Linked DNA regions of Homo sapiens: region 2 is linked to region 1. The links come from fine-mapping of genetic effects on gene expression. A gene starts in region 1. The other region holds a variant in brackets. All regions are shown on one strand. Distances are from middle to middle.

The links. PIP is the estimated chance that this variant, and not a neighbour inherited with it, causes the effect.
Region 2: its variant is the best candidate, but not a certain one, in a credible set for the expression of WNT5A in cerebellar hemisphere (GTEx, PIP 0.53).

The regions. Positions count from the first base shown.
Region 1 is chr3:55,484,744-55,490,101 of GRCh38, reverse strand. It overlaps WNT5A (Wnt family member 5A), which reads left to right and starts at 2,796. Exons shown (of 5, transcript NM_003392.7): 1 at 2,796-3,122. The coding sequence starts at 3,117. It overlaps WNT5A-AS1 (WNT5A antisense RNA 1), which reads right to left and starts at 2,484. Exons shown (of 2, transcript NR_046656.1): 1 at 2,223-2,484; 2 at 1,794-2,112. RefSeq lists enhancers at 150-661, 662-1,172.
Region 2 is chr3:56,105,833-56,111,210 of GRCh38, reverse strand. All of the region lies in intron 6 of ERC2 (ELKS/RAB6-interacting/CAST family member 2), which reads left to right. Among named protein-coding and RNA genes, the nearest start is that of MIR3938, 260 kb to the right of the region's middle. RefSeq lists an enhancer at 1-444. The variant A/G (reference allele first, on the strand shown) is at 2,379.

The sequences.
Region 1 (5,358 bases):
GGGAGCGCCCTTTGGCAGCCCCTTTCATAGTCAGCTCATATCCTGCCACTTCTTGGAGCTGCTGCACGTAAGGTGGGTCCCGGAGATCCCTGCCCGCGGGGCGGGGCTGGAGTGTCTGCCTAGGAGGCACATGCTCTCCCGCAGCCAGGGAATCTCAGTCTGCGGCCACTGGGCAGAACGGCAAGGGAGAGGGGGAAGGGCGGAGGGACGCAGCCTGGGGGCGATTTGCCGGGCGGAGACGCTCTTTTTCAGACACCCTCCTCAGGTGGGCAGATCTCAGGTTAGATTCGAAGACTGTAAAATGCCCACAGGTCGGGAAGTGGTCAAGGTTTACAGAGGAGAAGGTTAGAGGAATGGAGACTCAGGAGGTAAAGGGGAGATGTCCCAAGGGGAGCTTTGAGAACCTTGGATTCCCTCTCCTTAAGGCCGCACACGCCCTGGGGGAAAGAAAGCAAGTTGGTGGGAGGCGGGAGGTGCTAAGCAGGAGCATCTGTCTCTGGCACTTGGTGGGAAGTTCACACTGCCATCTTTGCGCGCCAGGAAGGAGGCCAGGGCTGGGGAAGGGTCCAGTCGGCTAGGAAAATTAAGGAATGGGAAGGGGCTGTGGAGGGTGGAACGGCATCGCTGGAGCCTGGGCCTGCGCCCTCTGGGGTGTGGGGGTGGAGGTGGGGGAGGACTGGAGGAACAAAACAAAACAGCCACCACACCAAAACACCTAGGCCACGGATTTTTCGCCTTAAGGTCAAGTGCATGCCAATGGACGGAGAAAATTGAATAGTGTGTGTGTGTGTGTGTGTGTGTGTGTGTGCGCGCGTGTGTGTGTCTTCACCTTTGACAGCTGGAGAATGCAGACGGCGGAAAATAACTATTACGCTCCAGTGTGAGGCACTGTTTGTGGGGTGGGGCCCTCGGCGTGCTGGAGGTAGCGGACACAAATCCACCAACCCTGCCCCTCCGGAGTCCCCAAAACCACGGGCATCTGGAAGCGTCTAGAAATTCCGGTGCCCGGAACCCGGTTTTGCCAAACTTCGCAATCTCCTCACCTGAGGGCACCCGCCAAGATCTCCGTGGCAGGACCACGCATCGCGCCTCATGCTCTGGGCCGGAGCCAGATGAGCAATCATGCATCCCACTACCCAAGTCCCTACTACTCTGGGGACTTTGCAGGAGGTGAGCGCCTAACCCTATCCATCAGCCCCAGTGCTTAAGTATCCTCCCCCAGAGGTAAGAATGAGGAGGTCCCCCATGAGGTTCCATGTCAAGGCAGCAGTCTCCGTGGAGCCCCAGTGGGAGCGGTCTGGGATACGCGGGCGAGCCAAGGGGTCCAGGCGGGGAAGTTGGGGTTCAGCCTCCCGCCGGTCGGTGGCTCTGGAAGGAGCGCAGACAACCAGGCGGCAGGCAGGCAGCGGCTGCGGAGTGGACCTCTCTCTTTCAGCAGATGCCGCGGGGGATGGGGAACTTAGAGAAGGGGAGACAAGGAGAGTGTACCCCGCCTCCCGGCACCCCAGCCCGTAGTACGGCTTTAAAATCCTGCAGAGTTTGTCATAGGCCGGCCTCACCACGCATGCGCATAGCAAAGTTGAGTTTTTTCTTTCTTCCCCCCCCTTCCCTCTCTCTTTCCAGCCGCCCCTAGTTCTGAAACTTTAAAGAACTTTTTTCTTTCTTTCTTTCTTTCTTTTTTTTTTTTTCTTCCTTCTGAGAACACCAGGGGAAAGAGGAGTCTGGAGAGAGGGAGGGAGAGAGTAAGGCAGTTGGCCAGAAGGGCTGGGGGGTGGGAGGGGGGGACGCGTCCCCGCGGTCGGTCAGTCTGTTTGCGGGGCACAGGATCGCGTGGAAATCTGCTGCGAGCTCCACGGAGCCGCCTCCGCCGCCCAGAGCCGGGGTCCGTGCGGCAGCTGCCCAGCGAGCCCTTCCGCCGCCGCCGTTGTGCCCGGGACCGCCCGCCTCCCGCCGGCCCGCTCTCCCGCCCCTCGGACCCGGGCGCCAAACGAGGAGGTGGGCAGCTTCGCCGGCCATGGACCGCCGGAGCTGAGTCGCCGCCGCGGAGCTCCGAGCTCTCGCCCTTCCCCAGCCTCGCGCCCGCGGTGCACTCGCTGCTCTTCGCCCTTCGCCCTGGAAAAACGGGGAAAAGAGAGATCAACCCGAAGAGAGAAAGAACGGGATACGTGGTGGGGGGGGGGAGCCCGCGTCTCCCCTGGGTTAGTCGCACCCCTCCAGCTCACCGCACAGCAATAAGTTCCGGGGCGACTTTCACCTATTTTGCTCCCCGTTTTTGCCGAACCCTAAAATGAAAGGACACAATTTGGGGCTGACTCTTGCAGCTCAGATGGCGACTTGTGCGTTTTCAGCGGCATCTCCCGGAGAAAAAGCCATGCGCGCCTGATTGTTCTGTGGCCCCAAAGCTGCAGCGGGGGTGTGTGTGTTGGGGTGTGTGTCTGTGTGTGTACAGAGACGTCCACACTAACTCGCGGCTGCAGGATCAGCGTCTGGAAGCAGACGTTTCGGCTACAGACCCAGAGAGGAGGAGCTGGAGATCAGGAGGCGTGAGCCGCCAAGAGTTTGCAGAATCTGTGGTGTGAATGAACTGGGGGCACCTGGGCGCACAGATCGCCCCCCTTCCCCCGCCCCGGGCCACAGTTGAGTAGTGGTACATTTTTTTCACCCTCTTGTGAAGAATTTCTTTTTATTATTATTTGTCGTAAGGTCTTTTGCACAATCACGCCCACATTTGGGGTTGGAAAGCCCTAATTACCGCCGTCGCTGATGGACGTTGGAAACGGAGCGCCTCTCCGTGGAACAGTTGCCTGCGCGCCCTCGCCGGACCGGCGGCTCCCTAGTTGCGCCCCGACCAGGCCCTGCCCTTGCTGCCGGCTCGCGCGCGTCCGCGCCCCCTCCATTCCTGGGCGCATCCCAGCTCTGCCCCAACTCGGGAGTCCAGGCCCGGGCGCCAGTGCCCGCTTCAGCTCCGGTTCACTGCGCCCGCCGGACGCGCGCCGGAGGACTCCGCAGCCCTGCTCCTGACCGTCCCCCCAGGCTTAACCCGGTCGCTCCGCTCGGATTCCTCGGCTGCGCTCGCTCGGGTGGCGACTTCCTCCCCGCGCCCCCTCCCCCTCGCCATGAAGGTAGGTGTTCAGTGCGCTGCCACTTTTTTTCTTTACTTCCCCCCACCCCCTGTTGGAAGTTAACTGAGTTCCCTTCGCCTCTTCCTATCCCTCCATTTCCCCAACCGCCTGAAGAAGCTGGAACTCCAGCGTCGCTGGCAGGAACCCCTACCCCTTCGCCCTCCACGCCGGGCGCACTGCCTCAGTGTCCCAGGAGATCACTTCTGGTCGCACCACCCGTTCTGCAAACAATTTTGATTTTTGAGAAAAAGTGGGGAAGAGCGATAGTAGACAAACTGAGTGCGGTTCACTGACGACTTTCCTTTTGCTCTGAGAACATCGAGTGTAATTTACTATGTATATTTCAGTAACAGGATAATGATTCAATTCAACAAATATTTACCAAGCGCCCACTGCGCGGGCACCGGGACGGTGTGTGGCCGGGGCTCGGGATGGGGAAAGGGACTCCTTGGTTGAGAGAACCCGCAGAGGAACTAGGGGCCAACTACTCCAGAGCGGCGTACACCTTCCCCGACACCCCCCCGCACCGACGGAGGCCAGATTGTAGGCTTGCCTTGGCCGAGTAACTCGAGCGCTTCAGGCCCCTTTGCCTTTAAGAGTGCCTGGCGGGGGGCCAGCGCGCACCCCGGCGCGGGGAGCGGGGTCGCGTTATTAGCATTATTAGCCGCCACTGGGTGAGCTCAGGCACTTTGCAGCAGTGGTGGGGGCGGGGAGTTGTGGTGGTAGTGGCTGTAATCCCGTACTCCGGGACAGCGCTCCCCGGCCCCCTGAGCGGAGTCCGCCTTGTCCTTTAGAAAACACTTGGGCCTCCGCTTTGGGAGAGCAGGCGGGGGCCAGTTTGCGAACTCTTGTTTGTTTTAATTGTCAGTTGTATGTTAAAGCCGAATCACACACTCCGAGGGTCACTGAGAGTTCACTTTTACGAAAAGTTAACGTTTCTTCCTGCAACATAAGTTTTTATTTTCTAAACAATTTTTCTTATCTGTCCTCCAAGCTTCGATTCCTATTTCCATTTTTCTGGTCTTTCCCATTTTAAGTTTCTTAGAAAATAAGGTTAGAATTGAAATTAAGATGTTTCCTGGAAGCAAATAACCCCTCTTCCCCCCAAAAAGTTAAAAAAAACAACAACAAAAAACTTCAAGTCTGGAGACCCCACGGCCCTGTTTGACTTTCTAATCCCTGTCTGGTATCGAGGCCCCTTCTCCTCTCTCGCCTCTCTTTTCTCTCTTCTCTCTTTAAATGGGTAATTCGCTGTTTGGAAGTAACTTGGGCCTTGCGGTGAGGTCGCACCTCCTCAGCCCCTGCCCTCCCCCCAGCCACCTTCGCACATTCACTGCCGAACCAGCCAGATTTAGTTTCTAGACAGACTCTGCCAGGGGAGTTTCGAGGGGGCAATGCGGAGAGTGCGCAGCGAACCGCGGGCCGACAAATGTGTGTGTGTCCGAGTGTGTGGATCCTTGGCTGCGTGTGTGTGCGTGTGTGTTTGTGTGTGTAGGGGAGTTGTTCTCGGGTCCAGGACGTAGTAGCCTTCGTCTCCTCCACCCCCCGACCCTCTCAACGGAAGACCCTCCCCAGGAGGCCCGGCCCAAGAGTCCCCTGTCTTCTCCTCCCCTCCCCCGTGCGCTCCGGTGCTCAAGGGGTTAGCACTATGCGCGCAGAACTCGGAGCCATCCCCGCGGCCTTTTCTTCCCCGCGGTGCGGTGCCGGCTGCCCCCTGTTGGCCGCCTTGAGGTAGGACTCCTGCGAGCCTCGGTTCCTTGGGGCGGGCGGGCGGGCAGCTGCTCCCCTCTCCCTCCCACCCCTGCTCCCTTCATCCCTCCCGACCACCAGACCCCACTCTCCCAGCAGGGGCCCTCGGAGGCCCCCAGAGGACCAGTTTCGCTGCGCCGCCGGCCGCTGCAATACGGAAGGGGCCACGGGTCCAGCCCAGCAAATGGGACTCGGCCAGCTGGACACAGGGTTGGTACCTCTTCTTCTGGGCTTGGGAAGGAGAGTGTCGCCCTAGGAGGCCTCGGGTCTGGCCTCAGCTGCCTCCCAACTCTCTATGATCGAGAACAAGTGTTGCTTTCCCGCTTTTCGCCTCACTTTAATCGTCTATTAAAAAGTGGGAGAGAAACTACCTTTAAAGAGTGGGGGTTGGACTATCATTTCATTTTCTTCCTCTGTCCAAGGACTCTGCTCCACCTCTGGACAAAGTTGATCCTCTGCCGAGAGGGCTAGACATCCTATGTGAGAA
Region 2 (5,378 bases), 620 kb before region 1:
GCTGTTAGAAAGTGAATCTCTTAAAGACACTGGGACTGAAGCACAGGATTTGAGTTCATAGAACACAGCCTCAGGGACACACCAGGACACATTCCTTCACACATAACTTTCTGGGGTCTATAATGGGAATGTAGAGGTCATGTGCCCTCAATTGGAGAGAGACTTAGAGTCCTTGAGCCACTGTCCCTCGGTGGCCCTACCCCCACCCCCTTGAAAACATCTGGGAGACAGTGATCAGGCCAACAATCAAAAGAACTAGGAGTATTCCATATGAACAGGTAGAGACCCTAATAAGAGCAGATGTGTATTCTGGACTCCAGAGGTGACCTTGGCAGACATGAGATGCAGTCAAAGTCTTTTTCTTCTAGCTCTCATTCTAGATTAGTCTTTGATTATCCATTTAGATATGTAGAATCAAATAAGCCAGTATTGATGTATCATATCATGCTGGGGAAATTTTTGAAAAATATTTACCTGTCTCAATCCTGCCTACAGGCCATTTTCCAAAAATAATTTATAATTCCCCTTGTAATGTATTGTTAATATGCTCTAATGATATCAATGCTTAAATCCATCATAATTTTAACATTATGACAGAATTTAAAAAATTCTTTCCATGTTCCTTTGGGACTTTGTTATGTTGTATGTACATTATATTAAATATAGTTGCATTTATAATATAGCCAAAATTCAGGGTTTTGAGTTTTTAAATTTAACTTTTTGTCATTAAACTTGTGCCCATGTAGTTATAAGCCTCTTAATTTTATTCTTAATCACACTGTGTGTCATGATTTCCCTTGCCACACTTCTACTTTTGTTCATTGCAGCTATTTCTAAAATTTTTCACTTGTATAGTTAGTATTGCAGTGGGAATATCTTTGAACATTTGGATTACTGGGTCAAAGGGTATAACCACTTTTATGGCATATTCTGTGCACTTTGAAATTGCTTTTTAAAAGGTGCTCGTGTACCTATTATAATACCTCAGCAAAAGACTGATACCAAATTTCCTATAGCCTTGCTAGTACTGGGTCTTTTAAAGTGAAAATGTTCAGCATAACACTATCCTGCCTTTTTACAACTTTAATTATATTGCAGGGTTGAATATATTTCCATGCTTTGTTTACTGTGTATATTTTCGCCGTGATTTGCCTATATGGTGGATTCTTGTCTAGTGTAATCTCATATTAGAAATATTAACTCTTCCTTAGTTAATGCAGACATTTACCCCCATTTTGTTGTTTGTCTTCTAAATTTTGGTTTTGTGAGTTGTCATGAGGTTTTTGGCTGTACATACAGTTGAATTTGTCAGTCATTTCTGTCATCACTTTTTTAGTTCTTCCAAGGATCAGATAAGTCCTGTCTTCTAATTTCAGCTTGTTCTCTGCGCCTTGATGTTTGTTGTTGTTGGTTTTTAAACATTTGTTTCTTTATAGTTTATTTGTTCTTTTTGGAAGTACAATACATGTACAAAGTCAAAGCAATTTCAACACTGCAGTTGGAAGTGTCCCATGGCCACAGTTGTGTACCTTTACATTCTTTACTTAGCAGGACACCCAAGAATTCATTCTACCCAAGAGATGGCTGACCTCAGGCTTTTCACTGCTGCATCATATTCTGTTATGTGCATGGACTATAATTCGTGTAACCAGTTTAACTTTATTTGGAAAAAAACTTCCTTGATAGATTAGATCTGTCAAGAGTCTATTTTAAGACTCATGCATGTGAATGTTCATTGCAGCACTATTCACAATAGCAAAGACATGGAATCAACCTAAATGCCCATCAGTAACAGATTGGATAAAGAAAATGTGGTACATATACAGCATGGAATACTATGCAGCCATAAAAAAGAATGAGATTATGTCTTTTGTGGAACATGGATGGAGCTGGAGGCCATTATCTTTAGCAAACTAAAGCAGGAACAGAAAATCAAATACCGCATGTTCTCACTTACAAGTTAAATGATGAGATCTCATGAACACAAAGAGGGGAACCGCAGATGCTGGGGCCTACCTGAAGGTAGAAGGTGGGAGGGGGAAGGAGGGAGAGAGGAGCAGAAAAAATAACTATTAGGTACTAGGCTTAGTACCTGGGCGATGAAATAATTTATATGACAAACCCCTGTGACACAAGTTTACTTATATAACAAACCTGCACATGTATCCTCGAATCTAAAATGAAAGTTTAAAAAAAGAGTCTATTTTGATGTTACAAAGCATGAATTTAAGTTAATTTCTTTCTGTTTAATTTATCTTAATATAATTTATTTAATGGTCTTTCTTCACTGTTTTTGATTCATTCTTCATATTATTTCTCATCTATCATTGGCTCTGTTTGGGGACTGTATGTCAGCCTGATTATTAATCTTGTATCCT[A/G]CAGCAGGCTCTCCTACTTTATGTTCTGGATAGATAAGAGATTGCTCCTTTCAATCCAGAATTGCTTTTTCAGAATGGTATTGGACATGCTTACCTGATTTCCCCCTAGTTGATTTCTAGAAACATTTTCTTTATTTTTAAAAAGAATCATCTATAGGGTACATTCAATCTATAAATTAACTTAGGGAGAATTGATTAGTTTAAGTAAATATGATATACTGTCAATTATTTTCCTGTTTTCAGTGTTTTTATGATGCTTATTAAGTTTATTCCTAAGTGATTTATCTTTTGTAATGTCATTTTGAAATATGTATAAGAAATAGATATGTGTATATATATTTGTATTCAGATCATTATTTTTTCCTAAGATTATAAAAAATTATTGGTTATTTAAATTTTCTTTATATGTTAAGGCAAATAATATTATCTTTATCCCTTTGTTGTCACTATTTCTACTTTGAAAATATTTTTTGTGTGTTGTTCTGCGATAAACTTCAAAACATTAAATATTTGCTTATATTTTCTATGGGAATGGCCTAAGGAGTTTCTTGAGTAATGACATATTGGTTCTTTGCTGTGGAAATACTTTCCCTCATGTTGAGAGAGCTTCCATTTCCCTTTAAAAATGTTTATAGGAATGAAAGTTGCATTTTACTAAATAATACTTTAATATCAATTAAAGTGCTCACTAGCTTTTCTTACTTTGCTTATTGATGTGGTATTTCTGTTAATAAAGTGTCTTAGGCTAAAGGACCCTAGGTGAAAGCCTTTTTGTTATGGTGTTGTCTCTAAGTATTTTAAATTCCATATGCTAGTTTTATTTAGGACTTTTGTATCCATACTAATAAGGAGGATTTTATATATGTACATAGCTAGATTGTGTGTTGATTTACAGGATAGTAAGATTTCTTGACAGCATCAATTAACAATTTTTTTCTGTTGTTGAGTAGTATATCTTATATGGAAAACATTTGTTCTTGAAAGTTTGAAAAAATTCACCTAGTTGCTATTACAGTAGGAATCAGTTACTATTTAGGCTTTCTACTTTGGATGGGGTCATGTCTCACATTTTTCCCTTACTTTGTTAGATTGAGAAGATTCAGTCAATGGCTTTTTAAATAGGTACTTAGTTTTCCCTGTTTTATTATATTTTATTTAGGTAAAATGTCTTGGTGTAATGAAAAAATCAGAAGGGTGGCTTTGGTGATGGGGAATAGTTTCCGAGTGCTTTAGCTCTTGTGGTTGCCTGCACATTTTTAGGGTGAAAGCAGAGTATCAGAGGTGGACAGGGTCTTTGAGAGCCCATCATTTTTTCAGATGAGGAAACTGAAGCAGAGACTGGGTGAGTGGCTTGACCAGAGTAGGTCAGTAAGGGTGCAGCCTGGGAAAACTGAGACTGGGACCCAAAGCCCCTTGGTTGAGTCAGAGACTATTGTGTTTAGTTTGAGGATTTATAGTTCATTTTAAAGAAGGAATGGGAAGCTTAATGGGCTTCAGTTTACATTAGTCAGCATTCTTATGCTAGCAAGTAACTGCAACTCTTTTAAAATTAGCAAAAAAAAAAAAAAAAGTGGATTTAATGATTTGTGTGATTGGAAATTTCAGGATAGCATTGACTTTAGACATAGCTGGATCCAGAGACTCAAACATTGCCATCATTGCATTTCTTTCATTTCCCCCTTCAATATCTTGGCCTTTTGTTCCTTTTTGGGGGCTATATATTGGAAGATGCCAGGGCCATCAGCAGACCCAGTATCATATCCTCGTTCATATCCTCCCATCTTTGCAACCCCAATAGAATAAAACATGTTTCCGTATTGAATGCATTACGTGGTCCTAAGAAGGGCTGCGATTGGCTGGGCCTAACACCTGATCACCTCTGATTGATTCACCGTGGTGATTAGGTCACAGTCAATGAAACACCTCCAGCAGCCAAAGTAATTAAAAAGTAATCTTTACTTCTATATCCCAAAGAACATTATCCCAAGGAATCACATAAATCACTAAATCCTCTTTTCTTCTTAAACTAACTGGAAATATTTCCAGTGACTTGCTAGCACAAGAATGCTGATAAATATAAGCCAGTTTATAAACACTAGCAACACTTGTCCCATTTTCAAAGAACACCCCAGGGCTGCTGTTACTCCCTCATGGCTAGTCTTTGACCAAAGTGGCTTTTCTCTCTGCCTTGCTCTCCATTTTTTCAGCATTACAAATTTAAAAAAATAAATAAGTAAACCAGAAAACAAAACATGTACCTAACCTCTGGGCTATTTTTATGTTTCCTCTATTTTCTTTGTCCCCAGAGTCCAGAAAGGCCCTAAAGACAACCCCAAGTTAAAGGCCCCTCCCCCTTCAACACTAGGACAACAGGACAGTGAAGAATAAACACACTTATTGTTGTGTCCTCGTTAAACATTAATACTTTTGGTTCCTTCTTCCCAGTTGCAGACCTCCACGAAGGGAGCTCTAATACATAACTGGATCATTCTGCTTACAGGTGAACTTCTATCTATTTTCCTTTTTCCATGGGGCCAGTGTAATTCTATTGTATCTCTGGAGGTGCTGCCAGGCGGAGCTTGGCTCTCTTCACTGTGGTTCTTCCTGTTGAACCTTCTGCCTAGCGAACAGGCAGGCCCTTCTCAAGGATCCCCACCCACCCCCAGTGCAAAAGGGATCCTACTTTATTAAGAAACTAGACACCTATCAAGATTATAGTGAACATTAGTATACAGTTTGGATCTTCATAAAGGAATTTTAAAAACTTCTCTTATTCAGTGAACTCAAATCATGCCTTACAAGTTTCTTTCTGTACCAGAAACATAAGTCCTGAATTGTGCATTCTTTCTGAAATCATGTGCCAAGTTTAGATCCTCTACCCATTTTTCTGACTTTCAAGTTGTGTTTTAAGAATAAGGACAGCTTGTGTCTGATTGACCCTGATTTCTTCATGAGACTACCAGTCTAGAAGTTATATTAAATGCCTATTTAGCTAGCACA